Regions from separate parts of the Homo sapiens genome. Here regions 1, 2 and 3 are each linked to region 4. The links come from fine-mapping of genetic effects on gene expression. A gene starts in region 4. Each other region holds a variant in brackets. All regions are shown on one strand. Distances are between the middles of the regions. Region 1 overlaps TMEM255A (transmembrane protein 255A). Region 2 overlaps LAMP2 (lysosomal associated membrane protein 2). Region 3 overlaps TMEM255A (transmembrane protein 255A). Region 4 holds the start of TMEM255A (transmembrane protein 255A).

The links. PIP is the estimated chance that this variant, and not a neighbour inherited with it, causes the effect.
Region 1: its variant is the best candidate, but not a certain one, in a credible set for the expression of TMEM255A in monocytes (TOPMed, PIP 0.50).
Region 2: its variant is the best candidate, but not a certain one, in a credible set for the expression of TMEM255A in atrial appendage (GTEx, PIP 0.88).
Region 3: its variant is the best candidate, but not a certain one, in a credible set for the expression of TMEM255A in blood mononuclear cells (TOPMed, PIP 0.87).

What each region holds. Positions count from the first base shown.
Region 1 is chrX:120,283,444-120,291,119 of GRCh38, forward strand. It overlaps TMEM255A (transmembrane protein 255A), which reads right to left. Exons shown (of 9, transcript NM_001104544.3): 5 at 3,711-3,779; 6 at 1,684-1,772. Among named protein-coding and RNA genes, the nearest start is that of TMEM255A, 24 kb to the right of the region's middle. The variant T/C (reference allele first, on the strand shown) is at 3,335.
Region 2 is chrX:120,436,815-120,444,490 of GRCh38, forward strand. It overlaps LAMP2 (lysosomal associated membrane protein 2), which reads right to left. Exons shown (of 9, transcript NM_002294.3): 7 at 5,785-5,848; 8 at 4,916-5,080. Among named protein-coding and RNA genes, the nearest start is that of LAMP2, 29 kb to the right of the region's middle. The variant A/AG (reference allele first, on the strand shown) is at 4,370.
Region 3 is chrX:120,272,974-120,280,649 of GRCh38, forward strand. It overlaps TMEM255A (transmembrane protein 255A), which reads right to left. Exons shown (of 9, transcript NM_001104544.3): 7 at 3,912-4,074. It also overlaps the pseudogene PFDN4P3. Among named protein-coding and RNA genes, the nearest start is that of ZBTB33, 26 kb to the left of the region's middle. RefSeq lists an enhancer at 1,807-2,484. The variant T/C (reference allele first, on the strand shown) is at 4,249.
Region 4 is chrX:120,307,996-120,315,671 of GRCh38, forward strand. TMEM255A (transmembrane protein 255A) reads right to left here and starts at 3,466. Exons shown (of 9, transcript NM_001104544.3): 1 at 3,257-3,466. The coding sequence starts at 3,314. RefSeq lists an enhancer at 1,433-1,482.

The DNA of each region.
Region 1 (7,676 bases), 25 kb before region 4:
ACCCCAAAATACCGACAGTAGGGAATGTGAGTGATGAGGGGGCTGCATCCACTTGCTGCCTCTGAATCTAGCTCCATCCAGCCCCACTCTGCAGGTTCCTCCCCTTACTCCCTCCCTCCCGTGGCCCTCAGTTCGCCTTCACTAAGATTCTGAAGGAAATACGTGCATGACGAACATTGGTCGACATACCCTGCATGGAGAGGTGTTCACTCACTGTGCACATCACCTACTCACACATCCCTATTGATTCTACCTTCTAAATTGCTCTTAAAATGATTCCCCGCTTTGCATTGTCTCCAACTTGATCTAGGCTCCATTCTCTATGGCCTGCGCTCTTGCAATGGCCTCCTAGCTGCCTCCATTCCTCAACCACTCAATTCCATCTTCCATGCTGTACCCTTCAATGGCCCCCAGTTGCCTACAGGGTCAAGTCTGAAGTCATTCCTATGGCCAATGAGCTCTCTATCATCTGATCTCTGGCTACACCTCTGTCTTACCTCCTACCACACCTTCTGTAACTACCTCCACCCACTACCTCTTCACAACTACCAGGAATATCCTTCCCACCTCTGTCTTCTTTTGGTTTGTCTCCTGATTCCCTACTTATTCTGTAAGTCTCAGCTCCCATATCACCTACTCTTTGACACTTTTCCCTCCCGGCAAACTCTGACTTTCATTCATTGGGCCTCCAGAATCCCCACCACATCCACTGATCCCCACTGCACTTATCACATTATATTGCAATCGATTGTTCACATGTCCATCCTCTTTACTAGTCTACGAGCTCTTCAGTGGCAATCTCTGTATTCCTAGCGCCCAAATATATTTTGAAAGAAAGAATAAAGGATGTTTTAGCAATTTGGAGTGCACAGAGCCAGAGTGGCTGTAGCAGAACCAGCACCAAAACTGCTCCTGCCTCAGAACCTTTGCACTTGCTATTCCCTCTGCTTGAAGCACTCTTTCTCCAGGTATCTACCTGGGTTGCCCACCCACCCCCAACTACTTTCAGGTCTGCACAAATGTCACCTGCTCAAAGAGGCCTTCCCTGGCTACTCTATCTAACATACAGTGTGCGTGCATGTGCACGTGCACGCACACACACACACACACACACCCCTCATCACTATCTACCTCTCCTGCTTCATTTTTCTTCAGAGCTCTGATCACCACCTGGCATTATATTATATATTTCTGTATTTGTTGACTGTCTCCCCTACTAGAATATAAGCTCCACAGGGGAAAGGACTTCTGTTTTGTTGGCTGCTGAACCTTCAGTGTCTAGAACAGAGCCAGGCACCGAGAAGGTACTCAGTAACTATTTATTGAACATTGTTAAACTTGGATATAGACAGAGCTGAGTTTGAATCCTATACATATTATTTTCAAGTTCTGTGTAACCTTGGGCTAGTTGTCTGTTTCCTTTGAACTTCACTCTCCTCATCTATAAAATGAGGATTACTCTGCATACATCATAAGTAAGAATTAAATGAGATCAAGTATGTGAAAGTACCTAGCATGATGCCTGGCACAGAGAAGGCAAGTAATGTCTGTTAGCCAAAATCTGTTAACAGATCAATGTCTTCCACTTCCCTAATTCCCACAATGCACCCTTCCTTAACCTCAGCCCTTCTAGTGTCCGTTGTGGTCAGACCATTATTCCTGTGTCTGGGCCTCAACACTTACTTGCCACAGTTGTAGAGGTCACAGCAGAAGCAGGTGTTGCCCCGGATGCGAGGTGTGCAGAATTCACGGCTGAGGTGAGGGCAGTTAACCTGACGGTATATAACAGTGAGGAGATGAGCTGGCATTGGATAGGAAGCAGGACCCTCTGGGATTGGAAATGCGAGTTAGTGACTGATGGAGACAGTAAGGATGGCTTTGAAATGAACACCCAATGTGTGGGAAGGATGGGGCTGGATGGGGAGCTGGCCGAACTTGTGCATGAGGCAAGTCACTGTGTAGCTGGGCTCATGTCCAGCCTCTGCCACAGCCCTCAGTGCCCCATCCCTGAATGGTGGAGATGGAGAGAAGGAAGGACAGATGGAAGGACAGACGGAAGAACAAATGGACTGAAGGAAATGAGAATATGAGGGCAGGCAAAATCAGGGTACAGGAGGAAAGAAGATAAGGTGGGAAGGAAGACAGAGGAGCCGGCGCATGCACTCTGAAGTACAATAGTACCTCTCTAGCTGCCTGGGTAAGGTTCCTCATAACCCTCGTGGAAGGAGAATTTTTGGTTGAGGAACTTATGACCTTATGTAGGAAAAATAGGGTTAGGGGGACCAGGGTTACAAGTGAACCTATGGAAGTCATTATTAATATTTTTACAGTCACCAAATTAACGCAAGAAAGCTATCACAACAAAATCTAGAGAACAGCAATGACATTTTACACATTTTGAGTTAGCAAAAAGGTTTTAAAAACGGAAAAGAATTTCATTTACCATCTCTTGTTAGCAAGAAATTGTCCAGCTCTCTCCCCCATCCAGATGCAATGAAGTGCTGCTAAATTTGTCTTGCTTTGTTATAGAGAATATTCATAGCAAATGGGCATTTTTTTCTATATTGGGTCCTTCATCCAAATGCTTACTGCCTTTCAGATAAGCTGTTATCATATATGCATTTCTATTCCTCCTATCTAACCTGAGAACAGTGAGAGAAATAGTAAATTTATGGTTGTTAAAAGAAAAAGGAGTCAAGTGGATGGCAGAGACATAATCAAAGTATTTGCCATGGTGCCTTTGGAGCAGGACTGCTTTGCCTTACTCCAAGGGCACCCATTCACATTGTATTTTATGTAAAATGGCTTCCCCTGAAGCTGTGCAATGCAGTGGCCATTTTACATCCAATTGCCTTCCTTTTCTCTTCCCAACTGAAAGTTTACCATTTTTCTAACTATTTGGGAATGATTGACTTTCAATGTGAGGTTAATAGAGTACAAAATTGTCAAGATTCCTGGAAGCCTAGGTACAGTTTCATATGGAGAAATCCCTGGGTTGGGAAGGGATTATTGTATACTGAAATGAAAGCTCTCCAAAAATGACCTGGAGTCATACTTTGCCTCACTACGCATTGCATCTAGCTCTGCTTGAGGCAACATGGAACATAAGGAGAGCTGTTTGGGGCAGAAGAGAGACTCATCTGTGCATGCTCAAGCATTATTAGGCTGGCCTCTTGGAGGTGTTATGAGAGGGGCCAGGCTGACAGTCCCAGCCTCCCCAGAGCATAAAGGTGGATCTGGCTTCTCAGTTACCCTCATTTGGCTTCCAGACCCATCCTATGTGTGGAACTCAGGCTCTGCCTCCGTAGTTCAGGCCTAGTGCCCTGGTGGGGCT[T/C]CCACTTTTATTCCAACTGAGCACTGAGTTCAGGCAACTGAACCATCATCCACAGAGATGGGGGAGGGTCATGTCCTGTGGCCTCTGTACTCTCATTTGTCCCCCTGAGGATCAAAGCCACATATGGGGAGGCTCCCGGCTGGGGTCAGAGGGTCAGCCTGTGGCCACAGAACAAAGTAAAACTGATTAGGCCTCATGAGGCTCCAACCTATGACCATGGCCTCATTAGCAATGTGCTCTGACCCACTGAACAAATCAGCTATACATACCTAGAAATAAAACTTAGGCCCATGAAAAGGAGTAAAAGAAAGGGTGTTTCAGGCAGAACAGGGGACTTTCCCAGGAGGTAAAGACATGCAGCCTCATTCTGGCTCACCTCCTCAGCTTCCTTCTGTGATGTCTTGGGAACATAATGGCACCGGTTAGCGTAGAGTGGTTTCAGATCCTGAAAAGGGAAACACCAAAACAAAGGGGTTTTGACTTTGGAAAATAAAACAGCAAGTGTTGTACTTGGTAATAAAAGGTTTGAATACACACACACACACACACACACACACACAGAAGCAGGCAGGCAGTAGATTGGGTTAATTTCTGAAAGTCACCTGTCTAGGGAGACTGAGTGAAGATTAGACAAAAATACTTTAAAAATTACTTTCTATTAGACTACTTGGTTAATGAGAAATTATGAAACTGATTGAGAAATGGGCTTCTTGAAATTTCCTCTCTGGTTTTCTTTTACTTCTGGCCTTTGTCTTCTTGTAAACAGTCCTCAGGGAACAAGATGCAAAACTCCAGGTTATTATGAAATGACACTTTCAAGCAGAGAGAGCTCAAGTCCAACAATGAGGTTTCATTATCACCTGGGGACAGGACTATGGTTGGCTGACTTGTACCTCTTGCTGTCATTTCCGCATCATTTTCAGAAGGAAGAGCTCAGGAAGCAAGCCTCAGGAGGAGGGGCAGCTCCTGAGGCTGCTGTAGATTTTAACTCAATTGAACTGTGAGCCATTTTCACCCAACTGCATAGATTAGATAAAATCAGTGAACTCCAAAAACACTGTTCAAGTCTCAGAAAACTAACATGGGGCTCAAGGACAGTCGATTTACTCTGCTGGCTTGGCCAGCTTCCTGATGAGAGAGAGCTCTCATGCATGGGGGTTGGGGTAGAACCAATAGACACAAGCCAGGGCTGCCTGGAAGCTTGCAGGCAGGAGCTGCTGTTCACTTTCCGGACTGATGCTAAACCTCCCCTGAGTGGTAGGGGGCTTCTTCCAAAGGCACCTTAGGACAGGACAAACAACTTATGCAAATTGACCTTGGGGTTTGGCAGAAGTACCCAGGCAGAGGGAATTTATGTATTGTCTCCTTCCCTTCTGCCCCCACTTCTTTCACCATTTACGATCATCTCAGTGGCTGCTTTTCCCCACACATGTGATTTAGCGTCTTTTGTACTTGGCACTCAAATGCCTCCTGCCTTTTAGCCGGCCTCCCCATTAAGGTTCTAGGACTTTCCATCAGCTAGCTACTTCTACATGAAACTCCTGCCTGCTCAATGTTCTGAAAGTACCTTGCCCTGTTAGCTTAGCTTGGAGTCTAGCTGGAAAGGAATGAGGGTGTTCATGCTCACACCTGGAAGGGCTTATTGTCCATGTTTGGTGTTTGGGTAGTGGCAGAATAATTATCATAATTATCCTGCTGAAGAGGAGGCTTAATGTGCTGGTCACAGCCCTTCTCACCTCCTGGTTTTGCAAAAAGCATTCAGGCACCAAGTGCCCTACATGAAGACAGACGTGTGATAGTTGCCCATTTGCTGCCTCTGGCTGATACTCTTCATTGAGGCCCAGAAGAGTAACAAGAACAAGGCAATTGGGAGGCAAGAAAAGGTCACTCAGCCAGGGCTTGGCAACCTCTGTAATCTGAAGGGCTACCAACTATGGCATGAAGGGGTAGAAAAGGAAATTGTTTTATGTTGAGTGTCTGCTCTATGCCAGGCCCTCTTAGGGCATATCCATTCCCATTATTTAATTTCACGTTCATGCTAACCCTGAAAGGTAGGTTACTACTATATCCATTTAGAAGAAAAGAAAACTATGGTACAAGAAGGTAAAGTGATTTTCCAAGCTAGTTAATGGCTATACTAGGGAGAGGGGAAAGGAAAGAAATATGAGACAAAAGAGAAATGGCACAAGACACATAGAGAAGGGTGAGTGAGAAGGTGGTAGGTCTTGAGAGGAAGTTCAGATTCACCCAAGTCAAAGGAACAGGGAAAGATGATGTTAAAGGGCCTCAACAATAGGACAGCTGGCTCTCACCCATCCAAGCTGTGCTAGGGTCCAAATGTGCCTTTCATTTAAGTTGGCCAACAGATACCATCATAGATTAATAAAGCCTCCTTCCTCAAAGCTCTCTGGGTGTCAATGAGGACTAGCCAATGTCTTAGGGCAGGTATAGTATAAGCAGAAAGATTTTCTTAAATATTCATCCAGTCGTACCCCCAAATACTTGAGTCAAATGCTGTACTGCAGGTCACCAGCAGCAGGAGGTACAGAGGGCCTGGACTCAGAGGCAAGTAGTGGTCATTAGAGGAAACTTCCAGTAAATATAATTTGAATTTTTGCCCATTGCCTTTGACTGGAGCCAATGATCAAAAACATTGGAATGTCAGGAAAATGCAAATCAAAACCATAATGAGATACTGCTTCATACCCACTAGGATGGCTGGAATCAAAAAGTCAGATAATAATGAGAGTTGATGAGTATGTAGCAAAATCAAACCCATCAAACACTCTGGTGGGAATGTAAAATAGTGCAGCCACTTTGGAAAATACTCTGGCAGTTCCTCAAACAAATAAACATACTTACTATATGATCCAGCAGTTATACTCTTAGGTAGAAAGAAAATGAAAATGAAAATGAAAACATATATCCATGCATAAATTTGTACATAAATGTTTACAGTAGAATTATTCATAATAACCAAAAAGTGGAAACAACTCAAATGTACACCAACTAGTGAACGGACAAAGAAAATGTGGTATACCCATACAACGGAATGTTATTAGTCCATAAAACGGAATGAAGTACTTGATACAACATGAACGAATCTTGAAAACATTATACTAACTGAAAGAAACCAATCACAAGAGAATATATATATTATATTATTCTATTAATATGAAATGTCTAGAATAGGGATACCTTACACAAAGAAAGTATATTAGTGGTTGCTTGGGTCTGGGGAGAATGTGGGAATGTGGAGGTGAAAGCTAAAGGGTATGGGATTTCTTTTCAAGATGATGAAAATCTAAAATTGACTGTGGTGATGGTTGCACATAAATAACTGATACATACTAAATATATTAAAAATCATTGAATTATACACATTAAATGGGTGAATTGTATGGGATGTGAATTATATCTCAATAAAGCTATTAAACAACATTAGGAATGAGGGGAAGAGGGGAAAAAAGGAAGCCATTTTAGCTCATGCTGCCATCAAAATCTACTGCAGGCTTCTTAGCCACTAGGCCTATGTTGCCATGGAGACTGCCTCAGAGTGAATACTGTTTGTCAAATGGGGATAATAATGCCTGCCCTATATATATCACAGGATTACTGTGGGTTTCAAATGAGGTAATAGATGTGAAGTCACATTGAAAAGCTAAATGCACTACACAAAACAAGGAATTATTGTTATTAAGATGGCTTCTGTTGAATACAAAATAGTATGCATACTATGATTGACTGCAACTATGCTACAAAAATAGGTATATACTCAGCAGCTAATATGCAAAAACAATAAAAATTGTCAAGTTAGGGTGGTAGAATTATGGATGTTTAAAGTTACTGATGTGTCATTTGCTTTATAAGAAGAAAAAGATGATGAAAAAGATGGCTGATCTCAGCTAAAATCAGAAGGGATGGATCTGGTAGAGGGGCCTACATTTATATTCCTGGTCCTGAAAGAAAATCAGGCAAAGGGCCTTTCTCTGGCATTCCTTGTTTTTCTCCTTGCCCAGGAATTGTTTCTTCAGATGCCATTTCATAGACTATTTGGGTGACGGCATTGACCATAAGTCATGTGGCTTCTTGGTGCTCTCTCTCTACCCCGTTGCCCCCAATACTAGTTCTAAGCAATTCCCCTGATCCTTTGCCTTCTCAAATCTTACCCACGTGTCAAAGGCCTAGCTCCAGCCCTACCACCACTGAATGCCTTCTCTGACCTCTGGAATCCAAGATAAGCCACTATGGCACTTGGAGTTTGTTCCCCCAGCTTAGACCTCATTCTCTAGATGTCCGCGTGTCCATTGGTGTCTTCACCTTGACTGCCAACTCCTTGAGA
Region 2 (7,676 bases), 130 kb after region 4:
CTGAAGTCAGGTTTTCTATAAAACAGTGTTTATTAGAGGTATTTTACTATGAATCAGGCATATAATCTGAATGTAGAAACTTTTAGAAATATTAACAGCATTCAGTCAGTGCCATGCACTTGTGCTTCCAATTATTTTTTTAAAGCTGCTTTGTTTTGACTCATGTGAAATAGTTAAGGCCTACATTCTTATACACATTATCCATCTTACAAGGTTAACAATTTTACACTAAAACACAGTTTAAATTAAAAACGATTTTGAAAAATTACATCTATATTTAATCCCTAAGAAGTGTTTTAAGCTGGTAATGCAGCTCGCTGTAGCTCTAAGAGAGGGGTTAGTCAGGAATCTGATCTTGAGCCATAAAGGTTTTCAGGCTAAACAAAGAACAAATTTAAGTGACGGAAAATATTTATAATTCCAATATAACTCAGTTATATTGTTATAAAAATACCCATGCTAGCATGCAACTGCCTATATATGTGTGCATATATATATATATGTCTGTGTGTGTGTATTGATCCATTCAATGTCAATATTTTGGAACCCAGACAATTTTCTCATTTTCTAGTGAATGGGAGGCACATAATCCCACCACAAAAAAAAAAAAAACACGAAAAAACAACCCCACAGGAACCTTCCATATATGGCTGCATATTAACAATTTTAATATTTGCTCAGCCATTCCAACACACACCAAAAAAGTTCTCCTAGAAGCAGCAAGAAATATTTGATGTGTTAACTACCAAGCTGATGTATTTTGCTTTCTCCTATAAACATTAGGTGGTACACGGTAATTTGACAATTGGTACATCTCTCAGACCACAAAACTGAACACAAAGCACGTGAATTAAAAATGATTCTACCATAATGAATAATAACAACGAAAGTTTTGATTAGCACAGAACCATTTAAATGTGAAAGCCAAATTAGTGATGTTGTAGCAATCAATGCAAGCTGGAAACAAAGAACAACTTTTTAATGGATTAAGATAAAACCAAGACTTTTTGGTTAGATGCAAGTTTTGTTTGTTTGTTTGTTTTGTTTTGTTTTGTTTTGAGATGGAGTTTCGTTTTTGTCGCCCAGGCTGGAGTGCAATGGTGCGCTCTTGGCTCACCGCAACCTCTGCCTCCCGGGTTCAAGTGATTCTCCTGCCTCAGCCTCCCGAGTAACTGGGATTACAGGCGCCCACCACCACGCCCAGCTAATTTTTTGTATTTCTGATAGAGATGGGGTTTCACCATGTTGGCCAGGCTGGTCTCAAACTCCTGGCCTCAAGTGATCCACCCACTTCGGCCTCCCAAAGTGCTGGGATTACAGGCGTGAGCCGCCACGCCCAGCCTAGATGCAAGTTATTTTATAAGTGTAAGTGCACTTCGTTATCTAGGTTCTAGGACACACTGGCATTTCTTAAGAAAAAGAAAATAATAAAATACATCACTATCAACAAGAAATGTTGGAAGGCTAAAGAGAAATCTGCATTAATTTTAGTACTGCATACAGAGGCCAATTTATGAGCACAAAGTACTAATGCCCTCAATTGGCACTGGCAAGCAATTATCTCTAAAGCACCTAAAAAATGGATTGAAATGCCCAGTTGGAATAGTCTTATATATTGCAATTTAAAAGATTGAAATATCCAGTTTTTTTAAAAAAAAGATTAAACAATAAGATTAATACCTACTCTAAATTTTAAAAAGCTTTTGTATCTTTTGTCATTACAGCCACATAAATACAAATGTATTCAAAAGGCATTAGAAAAGCATTTATTGCTAAGAACATAATAATACCAGCCCCTGTTCAAATCTACTATTATATCTCTCAAAGGTCAAATATGCAGCAATGCCAAAGTAGCTAAGTTAACCTGCAAACAAAAATCACACACACACACACACACACACACACACACACACACACAAAAAGAGCAAAAGGAGCAAGTACAAATCCACGGTAGAACATGTTGTTCCAACTCAACTACCTGCAGGGAAAAAAAATCTCTTTTTCAAAAATTGTTTTTTCTAAACGGTGTATTTTTAGTCTGAATGTCTAAAATGAAAACACTGAAATACTAATTCAAGACAGTAAAATAGAACTTATAATCCAGTGATTTTGCACATCTTTTGCTGTAAAAATAACAGTTTTAAATTCCTTGGTTGGAAAAACCAAAGTCAGGCAACTAATTTGTAGTTGATAGTTTTTTGTTTAAGTTTGAAATCCCCCATACCACCCATTCTAAAGAGCTGGACTGCAACTAAATATACCTTAAGTTGACCAGTATTGCATGTTGGAACTTGTACTTGCTTTTTTCTTTTGTAACAGAGATCACGTATTGATTAGTGTTACAGAGTCTGATATCCAGCATAACTTTTTCTTCTGCCAATTACGTAAGCAATCACTATAACGATAATCAAGCCTGAAAGACCAGCACCAACTATAATTGGGATTAGAATGGTGTCATCATCCAGCGAACACTCTTGGGCTGTAGGTGAGAAAAAGTGTGTAATAAATAATGAGTATAATCACAAAAGAATGTCTCGAAGTCAAAGATGTTGATTTAAAAGTCAGAAATGTTCTTACAAGATCAACTTCAAGTAACTAAGACAGGTATATTTTTATGATAAAGCTATAGAAAATGGAGAACTGTTCTAGAATTAAAATTCTAAGACTTTCTTTGTCCTTTCATTTGTTTATGTGTATATATGCAGATATTCATATATATGAATACATGTATATTCATTTACATCTATAAACACAGCTCATATTGTAATGTGCATATATTATATGCACATTGTATATGTGTGCATATATATAATATATGCACATTATATATGATATATAATGCACACATTATATATATGATATATATTTTATATGTGATATATATGTGTGCATATACATATACATACACACATATATGTTTGTTTATATTCCAAGTCCTTTCCAAAATAGGCATATTACTTTATCAGAAATAAAGGGAGCTAATCTAGCCCACTTTTACATAGCCAGATTAGCCTCTCAGTGGTAGAGTGAATGTCTTTTGGGAAAGTGGAAACAGGATCAGGAAGGTATCATGTGATGAGAATAGCCAGGCTGGCTCTGTCTTTAGGGTCAGGGGTCAGCAAGCTGTAGCCCATGGGCCAGATCTGGTCCAAGAGCTAAAAATGGCCTTTACATTTTTAAATGGTTGAAAAAAATATTTTGTGACACATGAGAGCATATAAAATTCAAATTCCAGTGTCCATAAATAAGGTTTTATTGGAACCCAGCCACAGTCATCTGTTTATGTGTTGCTGTTTTCGTGCTACAATAGCAGGGTCAAATAGTTGTGACAGAGACCATATGGCACCAAAGCCTAAAACACTCACTGTTTGGAACTTTAAAGTTTGCAGATCGTGACTTAGTACATACAATTTTAGTGGCTGCAAAGTCAAGAAAACTGGGACCTCTTACTAATTTGAGCGTGCTTACTGCATTTCTTATCTGGTCAGGGTTGGCAGCCTAAGGGGGCTATTTTTTTCTACTTCTAGAAAGTGGTCTGATCCAGTAAAATCCAATCAACACTCTTCTGCCTTATTGCAATTCTATTTCTTTCCCCATACAGTCAAATATTACCTATGTGTTGTATTTATAGGTACCCACAGCCAAGAACCTAGTTCCACAAATAGATTATACATTCAATATCAGTATTAAATGCTGTATATCTCTTTGGGTGATATTTTTAATTCTATGTACATAAAAACCAAAGTTTCAAAGTAAGAGAAAGAGCACAGCTCATCTCTATTACAGGTGACTAGATAAACAGTCTTGAAGTGATGATACTAATACTGCAAACGATTTTAAACTGTAAACACAAATCTGGACTTAAAATTAGGGGAATAATGAAGGGGAGCCAGATAAAAAGTCCAAAAATAAAGCTACTAAAGGATCAAAATAATTGAAGTACATAAGCAAAACAGACAAAAGGGAAAATGAATTCTTGAAAATATTTTTAAAGTGTAACTAACGTCTTTAATCGCAAGAATGGTAGGGTGGAGAGCCCAATTTATTGTGGCCTAACCAAGTCAGACTAGGTATTCAACACCACTGCAAAAGTAGTCGAATGGCTCACAGTATATTCGCTTTTAAACACAGCTTCCACATTTCCTTCCAAACCATAGAATTAATGGTTGAAAAGGATGTGGATGCCTGGAATAGCTAGCTCTGCTCAACAGAGTTGTGATCCACAAACCCCCAATTTTAGGTAATAGGCTTAAAAGGACAAGTCAATTAAGGAATTTTATGTGCTTTTTTTCTTCATGCAAATTTTAATCTTGTAATGCCAAATATGTCTTTCATATTCGTATGAACACATTATAATGAGCCCTTCAAA[A/AG]GGTTTCATTAAAAATCTAATAAATACCACCATTATCCCTGAGTGATCTTCAAAAAGCGTCATTCACACTGGCACATGCTTTGAAAACTCTCCAGATCGTTTTGGCTGGTAAAAACATAGTTCATGATATTTGAGGCTTTGCTACCGCTCTTTATCTTTTGTCTTAACAAAATCAGACCAAACTGCTTTCATTCAGGTATGAAAATGTTTCCAGTGAGAAGACGGCCTCAGGAAGCAGATGCAAGATGCTCAAAGCTGCTGCTCCCAAGTGCCATCTTCCCTACAAACTAAAACCCATACCTCAAATAAAGCTCACTTAAAGCTTCTATCAGTTTTAGCTTTAAGAACTTTTTTTGCAAATGATTTTAAGATCACAAAAACATCTCGGTTGAGCAAAATGATGAGCCAAATATAGAGTTGCACAATTTGGTCAAGGCTATGAATTCATATTCCTCTATTTCAACGTTTAAATGTCTATGATTCAAAGGAAAAGCCACCTGTCAACATAAGAACATAAATTATTAATGAAGTTTGCTTGATTCTTACCTGTAGAATACTTTCCTTGTGTCACATTGAAAGGCTGAACCCTTAGATCAAAGGTATTTATCTGAAATGCTCCAGACACTGAAACAGTCTGCTCTTTGTTGCACATATAAGAACTTCCCAGGGGGGCATCCCAGTAGCTGAGATTGTTATTTGCAATGCTGAAAACTTCAAAGAAAAGAAACAGGTTAGTAACTTCTTATCCTATCAACATCAAAAATGGGAAAGTTGGCCAGGCACAGTGGCTCACGCCTGTAATTCCAGCACTTTGGGAAGCCAAGGTGGGCAGATCACGTGAGCCCAGGAGATCAAGACCAGCCTGGGCAACATGGTGAAACCCTGTCTCTACAAAAAATACAAAAAAAAATTAGCTGGGCATGATGGTGCACACCTGTAGTCCCAGCTACCTAGGAGGCTGAGGTGGGTAGTTGGCTTGAACCTGGGATTGAGCTGTGGTCACACCCCTGCAATCTGGCCTGGGCATAGAGCGAGACCCTGTCTCAAAAAAAAAAAAAAAAAAAAAAAGGAACAGTCCTCAGGGTTTTTCAGTGAAGGCCTGGGGGACAAGATCAACCCACAAAAAGCAATTCTTACCATAACTAGGTTCCCTTATCTTTCTATAGATGTTTCTATAGTCTAAAAATCAGTCATATCCTTAATTATTATCTACTCTACTTTGAAAAAATGGGATACAGAAAAAGACAGAACATCATAGTTCTAAGTTACTGATTTTAAGGTATGATCAAGGTACACTTTTTACATAGCATCTTCTGTTTCATTAAATAAGGCACTATTTGGTAATAAGACCATTGTAATTTCTAATCCTTCAGGGTAATCCACAGTCTTTTTCCCCAGGCCAGTGCTTTGCTTACCGGAGCCATTAACCAAATACATGCTGATGTTCACTTCCTTCAGATAAAATCGGTTTTCATTTTTCTGTTTGAAAAAGAGCTTCCAGTTAATTAACATTTCACAACTGTCTACAGATAACAGATACGGTTAATACCCACAGAAGAAAAGCAATCTAACACTATTACACAGAAGAAGAAATCATGCGGTAGAATAAACTGCAACTAAGTAAAAGAGAACTCATAATCTGACAGAAATCCCTTTCCTCTGTATTTTGTTTCCAACTTTTGGAGCACAGGTGTAGTCATGTGGATCTCAGACACTTGAAGATTTATGGCCTCAATTTTATTCCTCCTGTCACTTGCTGAGCCCTCACCACCTCTAGCCTGGATCACAGCAGCCTCTTAAGTGGGCTCCCTGCCTTTCAGCCCCTCCAGTCCTAATCTTTCCTTTTCACTGCTATTATCTTTCTGAAGTACTCATCTGATCAGCCAGTCATTCTAATAATTTCAGAGTGCAAGTACTCCAGGAGCTACCAAAATGAACCACACTTCAATCCTGCCTTCACCCTGTTTGCAATCTGCCAGGGAAGGTAAGATAAACACATAAACAACCATATTACAAAAAAGAAAGTGAGAAGTCATGAAAATAGGAGAGAAATCACTTCCAAATAAGGGAGGAGAAAAAGTAATGCCAGCTTAGGGATGGGGCATTTTGAACCGGGCAGGATTCTCTTAGGAAACAAGTGGGAAAAGGGGTATTTGAGAGAGCAAGAGTATAAATAACGGTAGTTAGAAAATAAGCATAATCTCAAATTTTTATGCTAGCATTTGAGCACTTACTAAGTGCCCAGCACTGTTCTTAAAACTTTACATATGATGCTTCGCTGAGTAAGTACAACACTCCTATGCAATAGGTGCTGTTATCATCCCCATTTTGGGAGTATGGCTGCGGAGTCTATGTAATTATTATTACTATGTTCTCCTACCTCACAAGAAGTGCACAGAGGACAGGATGAGGGAAGCACCCTGAAGGAACTAAAGGAAACATAAGGTTCATAAAGAGGGAGTGAAGGCTGAAAATGCAGGCTGCATTGCATGGGAGAAAAGAAGGCTTGAACTACCCAGCCATGGACTTTAGATGTTACCTTGTTGGCAAAAGAGAAACATTGTGAGGCAGGCAGACCATGAGGTCAGGAGATCGAGACCATCCTGGCTAACACGGTGAAATCCCGTCTCTATTAAAAATACAAAAAATTAGCCAGGCGTGGTGGCACATGCCTGTAGTTCCAGCTATTTGGGCAGCTGAGGCAGGAGAATCGCTTGAATCTGGGAGGCGGAGGTTGTAGTGAGCTGAGGTCTCGCTACTGCACTCCAGCCTGGGCGACAAAGCGAGACTCTGTCAAAGAAAGAAAAGAAAAGAAGGAAAAGAAGAAAGAAGGAAGGAAGGAAGGAAGGAAAGAAAAGAAAAGAAAAAAGAAAAGAAAGAAAGAAAGAAAAGAAAGAGAGAAACACTGATGGAGAGATGTGCTTTAGGAAGGTTAAGTTGATGTAGAACAATGGAGAAGGTGAGGAAGAGGAGCAATCAGGCAGGAGCTGTTTGAATGGTCCAGGCAAGAGGTAATGTGGACTGGACCCAGAGCAAAGGCAATGGGGAGTAAAAGCTAGGAGACAGACTTCAGAGAAATTTCAGGAAGAAGCATAATGGAGGACTTCACACCTTCATCACATCCCTCCTCGACTTAGGCTACATCTTGGCTTTGCATTCAAGACTCCACAATTTGTCCCAATGACTTTTCCACATTTTCACTAAACATATAACACTCCTCATTCTCCCAGCTGGTCTTGATTATGCCCTTTATCCAGGGATAACCTGCACTTTCCCACTTACTCTCCTTATCTCCCTACCAATACAA
Region 3 (7,676 bases), 35 kb before region 4:
TCGTGATCTGCCCACCTCGGCCTCCTAAAGGGCTGGGATTACAGGTGTGAGCCACTGCACCCGGCCGGGCAGTTCTTTATAGCAGTGTGAGAATGGACTAATACATGCACTTTACCTGGGTTATCACATCAGCCCTCACAAGTCCACAGGTAGGTGCTACTAGTGCTGTTGTTTACAGGCTGCAGAAAATTTCAACGCTACTTTTGAAGATCAACATTAGGTAAACAAATTTGCAAGGAATATGAGTAGAATCACAGAGCTGAAGGAAGAAACAGAAGTTAAAAGGAAACAACTCCACAATTTAGAAGTTGTTTGCAATGACATCATGCTTGCAGATGATGACTGCTTAATGATACCTTATCAAATTGGTGATGTTTTCATTAGCCATTCTCAAGATGAAACACAAGAAATGTTAGAAGAAGCAAAGAAAAATTGGTAAGAAGAAACTGATGCCTTAGAATCCAGAGTGGTATCAATTCAGTGAGTGTTAGTAGATTTGAAACTTCAGTTATATACAAAATTTGGGGGTAACATAAACCTTAAAGCTAATGAAAATTAAACATTTTATAATACTTTAAAATTTTGTTTAACAATCTTGAATATTGTTTGGAAAATAAAAAAATCTGCAAAAACTTGATAGATATTTCTCCAAAGAAGATATACATACAAATTGCACACAAACATATAAAAAGATGCCCAACATCACTGGTCAGCAGGGAAGTACAAATCAAAACCACAACAAGATACCACTTTGTGCCCACTAGAATGTTTATAATTTTTTTTGAGAAAGTGTTGGTGAGGATGTGGAGAAATTGGAACCCTCACACACTGCAGGTAGGAACGTAAAATGACACAGCTGCTGTGGAAAACAGTTTGGCAGCTCCTCAAAAAGTTAAACATAGAATTACCAAATGACCCAGCAATTCCACCCATAGGTGGAAAAAGAATTGGAAGCAGGTAATCAAACAAGTACTTGTAAGTGATTGTTCATGAAGGCACTATTCTCAGTAGCTAAAACATGAAAACAACCCAAATGTATATCAATGGATAAAAAACTAAACAAAACGTGGTCTATCCATACAATGGAATATTATTCAGCCATAAAAAGAAATGAAGCACTGATATATGCTACAAGGTAGATGAATTTTAAAAACAAAAAAAATATGATAAGTGAAAGGAGCCAGACCCAGAAGTTCGAATATTGCATGATTCCATTTATAGAAAATACCTGTAATAGGTAAATCCATAGGGACAGACAGCAGATTAGGGGTTGCTGGGGCCTCAGGGAAGGGGCAACAAGGAGTGATTGTTTAATGGGTACAGGTTTCAGGTAATGAAAAAGTTCTAGAACTAGACAGAAATGATGATTGCACAACATTGTGAGTGTACTAAATGCCACTGAATTGTACACTTTGAAGTGATCAATTTTATGTTTGTGACTTCCACCTCAATTTTTTTTAAAGGGGGACAGTGAGGGAAAACGGGACTAAAGCTAAGGCTAAAAGCTTGGCAGGGTTGTGTTCCTTAGCATATCATCTTCCTATTCCTCCCTTCTTTCCAACTTCCAGAAATTTCTTGAAAGTGTCCATCTAGCCACTCTCCCTGTCTTCCTCAGATGCCCTTTGCCTTCAAAATCCAATTCTTTCCATCACCATGGAAAAGGGTCTTATCAAATCCTTCACACTGAGAGACTAGTAACTCAAAGTATAAACACCTCTGTGGCCTACTAGCCTATTCCTTTGTTTAATACACGCATCTTGAAAGTGGACAAGGAGAAAAAGGACAATGCTTATCTTAAAGTAAGGAATAAAACATGGTGGCAGTTTCAGCGCCCACAGTAGGGTAAAATTGGAGAGGGGGAAGCCTTACAGGCACCCCACAGAGCCTACCAAGTAGCTACCACCTACTCCATTTGTGCATCAAGGTATCTCTGCCATCCAAGCCTGAAAGCTCTAGGGACAATTTAGAGAACTCTTAACACTCATCCTGAGGTCCCATCTCCTCAACTCGCCAAACCTGGGAGCTTCTCTTCCAGCCAAAGCTGCTGAGATTCCACACAATACCTGTACTTTCATCTGCCCCCTGGGGAAATTCTCCAAGAACAAAGGGCATTCTTTTCTCCAAAGAAGCCCCAACCCAGAAACAGCTTTTTTTGCAGCTCTCTAACCTAAAAGCTTCCTCAAGGCCAAATTTACAGGAAATCCTTTTCCCTCCTGGGGCTCCACCTTTGTTGATGCTTCCCCTACTTGTTAGTGCTTGGGCATTCCAGAGTCTGGGGAGGGAAGCTGGGAAGAGAAATGTGCGGATGAGAGAGGGAGAGAAAGAAGAAAGAGAGAGTGCAGATGGGCAGGAAAGGATTTCTCTTGACTTAGAGTCACTAGCAGGAACACTTAATAGTTCCAGTCAGCCCAGTACTGCTGGAGACTTGCAATCCAAAACGACAGAGTTTCTTTCTTTTCCCTTGTCCTACCCCACCTTTCACTTTCCAACATTCATCCTTTTGACCGTCCAGGATCAAATTACAAACTGCCTTTCAGGTTCTGTTCTTCAGGGACCCCAAAATCTGACAGAAACAGCCAAGGGCCTAGGAGCTAATTTCTGGGGTCAAAGGAAAGTCCCTCTTAGGCACAAAATAATTCCATAAACAGATGTGGGATGTTCATTTAAAGCAGTGGTATTCAATCATGGCTGCAGATCAGAATTACCTGGGAGCTTAAAAAAAAAAAACCAAAAAACCAAAAAACAAAACCTGATGCCTGGGCTTCAGTTTAGACCAATTAAATCAGAATCTTTAGAGAAGGAGCCCAAGCATTTTTTTTTTTTTTTTTTTTTTTTTAGAGACAGGGTCTTACTCTGTCACCCAGGCTGGAGTGCAGTGGTGCAATCATGGCTTACTGCAACCTCAACCTCCTGGGCTCAAGTGATCCTCCCACTTCAGCCTCCCAAGTAGCTGGGACTACAGATATGTGCCACTACACCCAGCTAATTAAAAAAAGTTGTTTTTTCTTAATAGAGACAGGGGCTGTTGCTCAGCCTAGTCTCAAACCCCTGGGCTTAGTCAATCCTCCTGTCTTGGCCTCCCAAAGGGCTGAGATTACAAGCATGAGCCACCATGCTGGGCAGGTGATTCTTATATGAAGCCAGGTTGATAACCATAACTCAAAGCTATTATCTCCATAATTAGAGATCTAGATTTATCAAATAAACAAATAAATGCTTAGAAATGCCTTAGAAGGAAAGGAAAAAAAGAAGCCTACTATATGGAGTACCTACTGAATGCTGAGTCCTGCTGTGCCTTTGCAGACACACACACACAAATAGAAAAGATTTGGAAGGGAAGAATGGAAAGTGGGGAGGCTGAGGTTGAGGTCCAAGTTGAAGGCAAGACCTGGCAAGCAACTTAGCCTAGAGCTGGCTCTGCGAATGCAAACAGAAAAGAGCCCAGATGCTCTTTCTGAAGAAACTTCACTATGAAATACCTGGGGAGGGGAAGACTAGCATTAATCCTACCTATAGCTAGAATAACCTTTCCTTCCATCTCTCCCAAAGTTTGTTAGGGGAAAACTATTCCCAAAAAATTTTACTAAAAGTGTGGGGTGGGGCTATAAAAGACTATGTTTACATAACCAGTGCGAATGGGGGAACTGAGAACACCCCTTCCTCCTTTCACCCCCCACCCCTAGAAGGTGCCTCCAGAACACAGGTAATTTGTGTATAACAAGAAATATTTGCAGACTGATGACATTACCTGGCTCCTTCAACTTGAGACATTTGAAGGCAGCTACATCCTTGAAGCAATTGCTTCTGATTCTTCCCTTCAAAATATGTGTCTGCATTTCCCCCAACTGCCTAGCCTTCCCCCTATGTCCAACAGGGGCCACTGTGAAATGCAAAGTCAATTCTTTCCTTACCATGTCCTTAAAGCCTCCAAGGACAGCGGCAGTGATGATGCCCAGGAACAGGCCAACAATGTTGAGGATGGTGGCAGACCAGAGCAGGTGGTAGAGGTGGATGATATCTTGGCAACTGCTGACATCGATGTATTCGTAGTACCCACCAGTGATCTCCACCCGGCTGGACAGGGAGGAGCATGCTCCAGTCAGTCCCCAGGGAGCAGGCTGTCCTCCCCAGCCCCCTCCCCAACTCTGGGATTGGGCTACCATACAGCTCAGTGAAAAGACAGGTGGGCAGGTGGGGAGCTACAGTAAGAGACATCATAGCCATGTACTATAATAAATCAAAGTGTGA[T/C]TGTTTATCCCCACTCCCCGAAAAAAAACTCCTACCTGCCAGAAAAATACTTGTAACCACCACTAACACTAATCCTAGATAGCACTTATTGACACTTGCTATGTACCAGGCACAGTGCTAAGCATTTCACATGTGTGAATTCATTGCATCTGTGCTGTTTAATGTGGTAGCTACTAGCCACATGTGGCTATTTAAATTTAAATTAAGTAAAATTAAGTAAAAAGAAAAATTCAGTTGGTAAGTCTCACCAGCCACATTTCAAGTGCTCAATAGTCACATGTGGCTAGTGTTTACTATACTGGACAGAGCAGGTTACAGAACATTTCCATCATTGCAGAAAGTTCTGCAAATCCTCACAGTATCCTATCAAATAGGGACTATCACCATGCACATTTTACAGATGAAGAAAGTGAAGCACAGAGAAGTTAAAGAACTTGCCCAAGTCGTAAGTGGTAGAACTGGGACCTGAATTCAGGCTTCAAAGACTTCAGTGTGTGCCCTCTCAAAACAAAACAAACAAAAAAACAAACAAATAAAAACCAATGTCCTGGTAAACAACTAAAGCTGAGTTGCTACACAAAACCTGAAAGTCGCCTCCGTGGGGAGGCCTTTCTTGACCACTCTGTCCAAAGACACCCCTTCCCAGCCCTGTCGCTCTCTATCACATTATCCGCTATGGAATGAATTTTGTCCCTCCAAATTCATGTGTTAAAGCCCTATCCCCCAATGTGACTGTATTTTTAGATAGGGCTTTTAGAAGATAATTAAAGTTAAATGAGGCCACAAGGGTGGGGTCCTAATCGGATAGGATTGGTGGCTTTATAAGAAAAGGAAGATCTCGCTCTCCTCCTCCTCCTCCTCTTTTTCCCTCCTTCTCCCCTGACTTCCCTACTCCACGCCCCTCCCCCACCCACCCCCGACCCCGACTTTCGTTCTCTCCCTCCCTACTTGAATGTGAAAGGAAAGGTCACTGTGAGCACAGAGGGGAAGTGGCACAAGCCAGGTAGAGAGCCCTCACCAGAGCTCGACCATGTTGGCACCCTGATCTTAGACTTCCAGCCTCCAGAAATGAGAGAAATAAGTACATTTCTATTGTTTAAGCCACCTGGTCTATGGTATCGTGTTATGGCAGCCCGAGCTAAGCAATACATCACCCTTTTCTAATTTCTCTGTAGCATTCATTCCCATATGAAAATAACTTACTGATGTGTCTACTACGTTATTGTCTGCCTCCCCAACTTGAACGTGAGCTCCATGAGGGCAGGAACTGGTTCATTTTGCTCACTGCTGTGCTTGACACACAGTTGGTGCTACATAAATACCTGTGGAATTAATTAAATGAAAGTTCCTGTCCTCCTGGATGTCACAAACTAGTTTACAACTTGGCCACTGGAGTTCATCACGAATCTAAAACACTTAAAGTCACAACGAAACGCCCTGGCATTAGGATGATTATTACATGTGACTCCCCTGCTATAAGAATGCAAAAAAGAAAACAGAAAAACAATCAAAGGCTGATCTCCAAAATGAATCAGAGAGGGACTATTCACATATGAAAAGACTTAAACTTTACAGATGAATTTATCTTCAGATTCTTTAAAGTCAGTGTTTCTCTAAGGAGGTGAAGTCAGTGTGGTTACAGGGCAGACTGCATCAGAATCATCTGTGTTTGTGTCTATGTGTGCCTGCCTGTTTGTATCAGTGCATTATTTGTGTGTGCCTGTGGGTGTCTCTGCGTGTATCTGTGCATGTATCTTTGAGAAAGAGAGATGGTTAAACATGCAGATTCCTAGGCCCAGCCCCAGTCCTACTGAATCTGGTAGAATCTCTGGTGATGGGGTCAAGAATCTGTGTTAACAAGTTCATCAATGTTTGAGACCCACTGTTTTTAATAGTAAGCTTCCGTAGTGGAATTTTTTAAAAAAATATTTTTTGTAGAGACAGAGTCTTACTATATTGGCCAGGCTGGTCTTGAACTCCTGGCATCAAGAGATACTCCCACATCAGCCTCCCAAAGTGCTGGGATTCCAGGTGTGAGCCACCACACTTGGCCCATAGTGGAATTTTAAGGGAGTTTCAATTAATCAGAGTTTGAATTGGATTTCAGTATTTTCAGGAGCATATCTCAAGAGCCCATGCATAAGCATACATTGTCTCCTATTAGCTGGCATTGTACTAGGCCCTGGGGACAGGGCAGGGAGGATGCACAGATTATTTACTGCCCCCAAAAACGGACAGCTGTACAAGGACTATTCTCTGAAAAGGACAGACCTGTGTGTATGGGTGAGTGTGGAACTGCAGGAGCACCTTTGTAGCTTGGGAGTCAACTTCTGACATCCCCCAAATTATGTTTGCCTGCCTCCTAAAACACCAAGGGTGGACTAGTAGTATATATAGGCAGGCAGTATGCCATAGCTGACTCTGAAGTCAGACTGTGTTCGAATCCTGGCTCTGTCATCTATGCTCTGTCACCAGATGCTGACTCTAGCAACTTACTTTCTTACTCTTAGGTTACTTACTTTACTTAACTTCTCTGAGCCCGGGGGATGTAATGCCAACAGGCATGAAAGCAGTACTCCAACATATAATAAAAGCCTCCACTAAAATATGTAGCTACATTTTGTTCCTTCTAAGAGCCAGCCTCTGGCAACACAATTCAAACCTTTGAACCCTGTTCTTAAAGGTATTAACACTTTATTTTGTTTTTTGTTTGTTTGGTTGGTTGGGTTTTTTCTTTTTCTTTTTTTTTCCTTCCTTCTTTTCTTTCCTTTTCTTTCTTTTTTTTTTTTTTTTTTTTTTTTGATGGGGTCTTGCTCTGTCACCCAGGCTGGAGTGCAGTGGTATGGTCATGGCTCACTGCAGCCTCAACCTCCTTGACTCAAGTGATCCTCCAACCTCAGCCTCCCAAGTAACTGGGACTGCAGGCTCACACTGCCATGCCCAGCTAAATTTTGTAGAGATGCGGTTCTGACATGTTGCCCAGGCTGGCCTCGAACTCCTAGGCTCAATCTATCCTCCCATTTCAGGCTCCCAAAGTCCTGGGATTACAGCCATGAGCCACTGTCCCTGGCCAGTATTAAGACTTTGTAGGCACAAACCGCAATATGGGAATAGGATAGTAGTTTGTTTTAAAATATTCAATAATTTTAGATAATATATACTTGGTTTCAGTTTGAGTGGTTCCAGCAGCCATTTAATTTTTTTTTTTCACTGAACCATGAAGGAAAAGAAAGCTAATTCTTAGATATGGTTCGGGTTTAGCAAATTAATGTGGTTTTTTTCTGCTTGAGATTCAGGATTCCATTTGGTTCAGTCTCTGGGCAGAGCTTCCTCTGAAATTGCACCTTTTGCATTCCCACTGCTCCCATCCTCATGCCTCCATCACTGTAAGGCTGTCCTGCCAGACCCCACTGCTGCCTGATTACTCT
Region 4 (7,676 bases):
TCCGGGTATTCCCCCTGGTCAGAGCCCCCATCTGCATTGCGGTCTTTGAACCTGGGTGCCTCCCTTCCTTTGAAACATGCTCAAAATTCCCCTCCTCCAAAAAGTTTTTCTTGATCAAAATTAATCACTTATTCATGTCCCTAAATTCCCAGGTACCTTACTCAATAAGTATATTAATTGTAACTGGTACCATTACAATTGTAACCGTGGGTCTGGTCCACAACCCATATGATATCTGCCAGTCCCAGGATTGTGTATCTGAGGGAACCAAGATGTGAGTTGCTAGAAGGTAGGATGCTGTCTCTGTTACTTTGTTTTACCTTGCACACGTTCTTGATTATCCTCTCCCAAGAGAGTAGATAAGGTGTATAATCTTTATTGGGCACAGAAAAGTTGGGAACCCAGTATCCTGTCCTGTACACGGTGTTGTTGATGCCTGGCTAGTTCTCTGGGTTGATCTTTTGAACCGATTAGGATTTGCTTACCTGAGTCAGCTTTGCCACACAGGGTGGGTCCCCGGATATCCCAGCCTTGAGTATCCCTAGAAACAAGTGGCTGCCCACACAAGGGCCTCAAGACCCTGCCAATCTCCCAAACATTTCCTTAAAGGCGCTGAAATCCATCCCTCCCCACTTTAGACAGTTCTCTGAATGGAGAACATCCGAGGCCGCCCGCGAATTACAAATGTGTTATTTGGGAGGAAGGAATGCCCTACTGTAGTAGAGGTGCCTTTGCGCCTGGGGGCGGTGTTGCCAAAAGGGAGAAGGGGGTTGCTGGGAGGGGATGGGGGGACACTGGAGTCAAATTACCATCTTCTTAATTGCAAAGCGCCTGCTCCACTCTGAGCCTTGGACGCACTGCTCTATTCCCAGGCAGCCAGCAAGCGTAGAGTGCAGGCACCTTGGTGCAGTGTGTCTGCGTGTTTTAAATTTTATTGTTTTGGTTGCGGTTGTGTCTTGACAATAAAGGGAGTCCCCTCAGAAATGCTGCCCTTGGAGGCTGAAACACTAACCTACCTACCCACTGTCCTCTTCCCCCCACGCAAGGGAAGGTGGTGTTGCCAGAGCTAAGTGGGAGTAGCTCCTAAGTAGCCTAGACGCTGATTCAGGCCCGGACTGTGCGGGACCAGGGCCAGGGAACTCCGGGGAGACTCCCCTGTCCAAACTGTGGAAACCCAGCGTTAGCACTGGACTCAGGAATTTGCCAGTGCCGTCGGTCTGCGGACTTCAAAAAGTGGAATGCGTGGCGCCGGCTCCGCTTCTATCTGGGATTTATGATTCCTTTCCCGCAGTGTGGAGACTGGGCTGGGCGAAGCCCACTCAGCTGTTTGTTGCGCAGACCTTTCGAGAAACACAAGATCGCTGAGGGCCCCTGGGAGCCCAAGAAAGAAAGCTCTTCATCTTGTTCCCCAACCCACAGAGCAGTGCGCCAAGTAGCGACTCTTTAAGCCCTGGGCCACCAACCAGCCCACTCCCCGAAGGCAGACGGGCCCGGGGCGCTGTGGCTTGATTTGCAGGTGGTTAGGTGGTTGTCGTCCGCAGCGGGAATGGACGCTGCGGAACCCCAGCACTCTTCCACTCTGCCCTCCCTCGCGAAGCGCAACAGCTTGGCGTCGGGGAGCCAGGGCTGCGTTGTTGGCGCCACAGCTGGCCAAGGTAAGCAGTGCATTCCCACCTCTCTGTCTCTCTCTCTCTCGCTCTCGCTGTCGCTCTCTCTCGCTCTCGCGCTCTCTCTCTCTCCCTCTCCCTCTGTATGTGTGTGCGCGTGGTGTGTGTGTTGGAGAAAGAGTGCGCGCGCGCGAGCTGGGAGTAAGGGGGAGTCTGGTACTGCTGGGCTCGGGATTCGGACCAAGTCCTTGGCCTCATTTGTACCCCGTTGTAAATAACTACGCCCTTAAAAATGAAAAAGCAAATTCTTATACTGAATATGCAAAACCATTGAGGATACGGATCTTTCCACCATCCAGGAGATAACACTTTCTGGGGCCCCTCCGGTGAACGAGTTTTGTTGACACTGAGTCTTCTGCGGGCAGTAGGGAGATTATATAGGGGGTTCGATCTTCTCCCTGCCCCCTCCACTCGAGATGTTCCCGCAAATTCATCGGAGAAGACCTGAGCAGACTGATGGCAGGAACTGCGGGACAGAGGGATTTTGCAGAATGTAAAGTATGTTGGAAAGAGAGAATTCGATTTGATTGAAGTGTATCCGAGGCGAATTTTAAAAGATTAGGTGGGATCATGATTTTACAATCCCCTCCCGCTCTCCAGGGCTCCAAATTAATTTCTCCGCCCAGTGAAATCACAGGGCTTGGGAAGGTGCCTAACAGCTGAGGGGGACTGGGTTTGTTTTTTTTTGTAACTACCAAAAAGCAGCTTCGAGGGGCAGCCAAGTTGGTGCCCGAAGGTAGCTGTCCCCCAGTTTCTATAAGGAAAGGAGTCGAAGGGTGCCCCTCCCCCTCCATTCCGCCCTGCGAGGAAAAGCGCGACTTCAGAAGATGCGCGGGCTCGCGCTGGATGTTTCTTTCTCGCGCTCTCACTCCTGCCCCTGACTCCCTTTTCACACTCATGCACATTCCGTGCATTTGGAGCAGAGTAACAATCAAATTCAAAGAATGTTGATCCCGCCGCTGCAGAGGGCAGGGCTGGGCTGTCTTGAGTGATTCCTCAGGAATTCCCCTCCCCTCATCCCCCCCTTTCTTCTCACCCCCGCCCATCCCCCAGAGTTGCGCAACCCGCCCCCCCCCCCCAATCAGCGAGGTGCAAGTCAGGCCCCCACCCAACTGCATCTCTAAATTTCAGGGCAGCTTCAAGAGAGTTGGGAGGGGGCGAGGACCCTGCTTCTAATTGTCGTTAGTCGTGAGCTCTTAGAAGTGACCAGGACTTTGCAAAGAGGGAGTGTCGAATGGAAAGCGAAGGCGCAGGTTGCAGGGAAGTGTTTTGATCCTCAGATTGCTGGGATTTACCACCGACTGCAAGTCTGTAGACACACGCACACAAACAGGCACACACCCGCACTCCGGGGCAGAGATACTCCGACGCAAGCTTGGCGCTCCGATCTCCGCACGTCGCTCCCGCTGCAGCCAGGCCGCTCCCCTGGGACTCTGGTCCACCACCCAGACGCTGGGGCGCGAAGACCACCCCATCCATGCCCCGTTTCCCGCTCTCCGGCTTTTGGGGCAGCTGGGGCGTTCACAGTCCAGAGGCCAGGGCACTCAACCCCTGCTGCCGCCGCCCGAAGGAAGGGCCGCTAGACTTACCCATGGAATCGGGCAGGGACATGTCGCTGGACCGCTGCTGAGTCAGGGACTGATGCATGGTGAAAACTGCCCGGTTGCCCCAGTCCCCGAAGCTGCTTCAAGCGCCCCCGGCTCTGGGCGCCCCGCAGAGCATCCTACTCCGCGGTTGCCTCTCTCGGTCCTTCCGAGAGCTGAGAGACACTGCCTCTGGTTGCGAGCTGCAGCCCAAGTGCCGCCTCCCCCTCCCTTCCACTCTTCTCCCTCCCTCCTCTTCTGCCTCCCTCTGCTCTGGGAGGCAGCAGCATTGGCGGTCCGTGCAGCCGCGTGCGCTTGCGCAAGACCCCCCCCCTCCTCCCTCCCCCTCAGTCTCCCCATCCTAGTTATCCACCTCCCAGCCTTCCAAGCCAGACAGGGAGCAGTTTTAGCCCCTTGGGGCCAGGGCTGCGCAGAGAAAGAGGGGGAGGCTTCAGTATGAAGCCAACCAACCTTCTCTATAGTTGGACAGGGTCTTGGGTAATTATCCTGTTCTAGGATTTATAACTGGGGAGGGGGTCAGAGTCAGAGGTTCAGAGCTGAGGAACACACACACACACACACACACACACACACACACTTGAGCAGGTCTGGTCTTAGTGCTTCCAGAATGACATAATGGAGCTGGAGATGATCCAGAGAAGGGCCACTCTATAATCAAAGGGATGGTGTGTGTGGGGCGGGGGGAGGGTGGTGGCTGACATATGAAGATAGATTAAACAAACGCAGACTCTTTAGTCTAGAACGATGAAGGCTGGGAAGTGATGTGACCAGAGTGTATAAAATTATGCAGAGACGGAGAGAAGGAGCACAGCCTTATTCACCAGACCTGAGAATTCTAGAACCAACAGCCCCCAATCTTTAGCTAGAAAATTCAGCTAAAGTATAACTCTGCACCAGAACCCCAGTTTGTACTGTTCAAGTGCTTTTATAACAAGGATCTCATTTTATCATCATAGCAGCCATGCAAGGGAGGAAGAGGAGTTATCAATAACCCCATTATGCAGAGGAGGAAACTGAATCTCAGAGAAGGGAAGAAAATATCCTGTGCCCACTCAGCTAGTAAGTGGCAGAAGTGAGAGCTAGAACCTAGATCTGTTGGACTCCAAGGTGAGTGTTCTTGCTATGGCGACTGAAAAGAACTATTATTCTCTATAGCAAATGGAAAACCTAAGGAATTCATTAGCTCCAAAAGATGCAGCAAGATGAAAATGCAAGTAGCTTTGGAAAGAGTGAAAGTAAAGTCATGGCTGACAGATCCACTGTGGATTACTAAGGGAAACTGGGGATGAGGTGGGAATGTCATTGATCTTGGAAGACAGCCAAATCCTTCTCGAACCTATCCTTTTGGACCCCATTAGGATATTGGGCTTGAAGCACCTTGTGGTTGGACCAAAAGGTGGTTTGAATGTTCTCAAAACAACTGCAGATCAGGATGAGGCCTCCTTGGAGTGCCCCCAAGACATCTATCTGGTGGCCAGGGGAGGTGGAGGGTGAGGAAGCGGGTAACAGTGGACTCCACCTCCCTCTGGGAACAGCCCTGGAAGCCTAACATAGCTAAGAGAATATACCTATTTGGAGGTGCCCATACTGTCCCATTGAGGAGCTCCCAGGCTCTGCTTGCCAGGTCTCCTTCCAACCACCTCCTTCTGATGGTTGCTGCAATCCTTTCTCCATGTTCCCCGAAAAACCCAAACCAAATCAAGTATAAAACTATTCTAAGAGTCAATGGGATGAAGAAGAGTACTTGGCTCTTTCCAGATCTGCCTTGCTAATCTACTGTAAAGCTTTGTTTTTCTTATCCAGGAAATGGGACTGAAGGCCCTTGCCCTTTCCCATCTTCTGAAGGAAGAAAATATGTTTCTTGAAGATTAAAAAGGAAGCCCTTTGTAAAGAACTTGGGCACCCCAGGGGCCACGTTGAATGCTGTGTCAGGTATTATTAGCAACCCTACACTATACATGTGGTTTAGAAATCTGTGATATATGTCCTAGATAGAGACAAGATGCCTACTATTGTAGATGTGTGTGTCTTAAGCCTGCTTAGCTTGTGTCAGGGTCTCTATAAGCTCCACAAAGGCAGAGAGAAATCCTGTATTTATACTTCTGCAATGATTGTCTTTGAGTCCTGTTTACTTATCTCTTTCTCCTCTCATTCTAAATATCTCATACTTAATGTGGAGGACTCCTGCAACCAGCACTGATTTCTCAGGAGTGCTTGCTAATTAACATATTTCGTTTCTGTGAAAGTAGCCTGAAAGAAAAGAGGTTTTTATACAGGCTCTAAAGACTATATGACACCTTCTTTAGAGATTCTTGGCTCCCCTATAGCAATCACACAGCAAGAGATCCCTAAAGAAGCCAAATAGAAACTTGTTACCATGCTGGTTTTGATGGACAGATTGAGGGCTTTTCAATTCAGAGAGAAACACACTACCCACCAAATGATGCAGAGGGCATATGTAATTTGACCTTTATAATCCCAAAGACACAAACTAGTGAGGTACCTTTAATGGGAGTGAGGTTTGCTTTCTCAACATCTGTATTCCTGAATCCTGCTTGAAATTGAACATTATTTTATAAAGTACTAGAGGAGCTGGCTATTTAAAAGAACTGCATATGGTATGTTTCTTTTGTGCTGTCTCTTGGGGTGCCTTGTGGGACTTGGAGCACAGCACGCACTCAGTCAAGTTAAAAATGACTTTGAGACCAGTAGCAGTGACAATAGCAGCAGCTGCAGCAGCTTGGAGAGTAGTAGCAGTCTTCTCCCCAGAGATGGTGTATTTGTCTGGAGAGAGGATCGGGAAAAGGGGAGGGACTAGAATGGGAACTGGGGGGAAAACCCCCTACATTTTAACTAAGCCCAGTACATACACCTCTTTTCCTCCAAAAAAAAGTTTATTTTAACTCAAATTGAACAGGATGATTAAAAAGCAAGAGGCAATGTTTCCTGGGCTCCATTCTGATTTTCTTCATGTCAAAACACATGTGGAGTTTATACATAAATAGGTTTATAATAAAACTTACCAATAGGCAAGCCATCTAGATGAAGAAACAGGTCTTTCATGCAAGTGAAGGCTACTATAAAACTGCTTGGTTAGCTTTTGATAAAAAAAAGAAATTATTAAAATGCCTTAAAATAAATCCTTTTCATAGCAAGCTTAATCAAGCATACAGTGTTGCCCTAGGTTGCAAACTGCTTTATAGCATCAGGAAATGTTTACCAATGGGGCTGCAGCCTACTTCTCTCCATCTTCTTCAAACCAGTGATGAGCGCCCTCCCCAGAAGCCTTCAGACCAGTAGAAAAATGCCAGATGGTGCTCTGTGTCTAACACATTCTCCCTGGGAAGAGCCATAGCATTCAATTATCTCCTTATTTTGCTGACCAATTTGACTATTTAAATTACATAGTATACCTTCCTGATTCCAATTCTGGGAATGTGGGCTAGAGAAATGTCTACATGTTTACACACACATACATGCATACATGCATATTTAAAATGGTGGCCATACAGGTATTCACAAGTGCACATACTTATAGACATCCCAGCTAGTATCTCTACGCTCTGGTTATCACCATCCAACTCTCGTTTTCCAGACTTTGGTTGATCAAGGACAGAGAGAAGCTTCAGAATAATGGAGAGCCTCAAAGAGTCCAAACATTCCTAACTGAGGTTGGGGTGTGCCCACCAGACTACCTTAGGTCAATGCCTAGTACTCAGTGCCTGCACCACAAACATGTGAATCTTGATTGAGGAAAACCATAGTTAAGGGTGTTGCCTGATTCTCATTGCCAGCTGGTCTTTTTCTTTGGGTACCAGGAAAATAACCATAGCACCAGGGAACAGTGTTGGTACTTGTCTTTACTTTGTTATTGATTTATTTCTATTTTGTAACCTGTGTTAGTTACCAAACGCTATATAATAAATGTTTTCCAATATCAGTAAAGAAAAAACCTTTGATAATATGATTTAAAATGAATGGAACATAATTTATTTACCATTTCACTGTTATTGAATATTTTAGAGATTGCCAGTTTTTTAACATTGTAAATAATGCAATGAACTAAACCTTTGCATCTTTTTCACCGTAGGATACAATACTATCATGGAATTATTGGTTCAAACGTTCCAAACACATACTTTTAATTAAACTTTTTTTATCAACACACATGTAATAAAATGTACAGACCAATGTATTTTAACACACACACACACACACACACACACACACACACACACTTGTAAACCACCACCCAGATTAAGATATTGAACCTAACATCCCAGATGGCTCTCTTGAGCCCCCTCCCCAGTCAATAACCCTCCCAGAGGTAACCACTATTCTGATTTTTATCAAGTCAGAATATTTTTAAGGCTTTGAAAATGTATTGCCAAATTGCCCTCCCAAA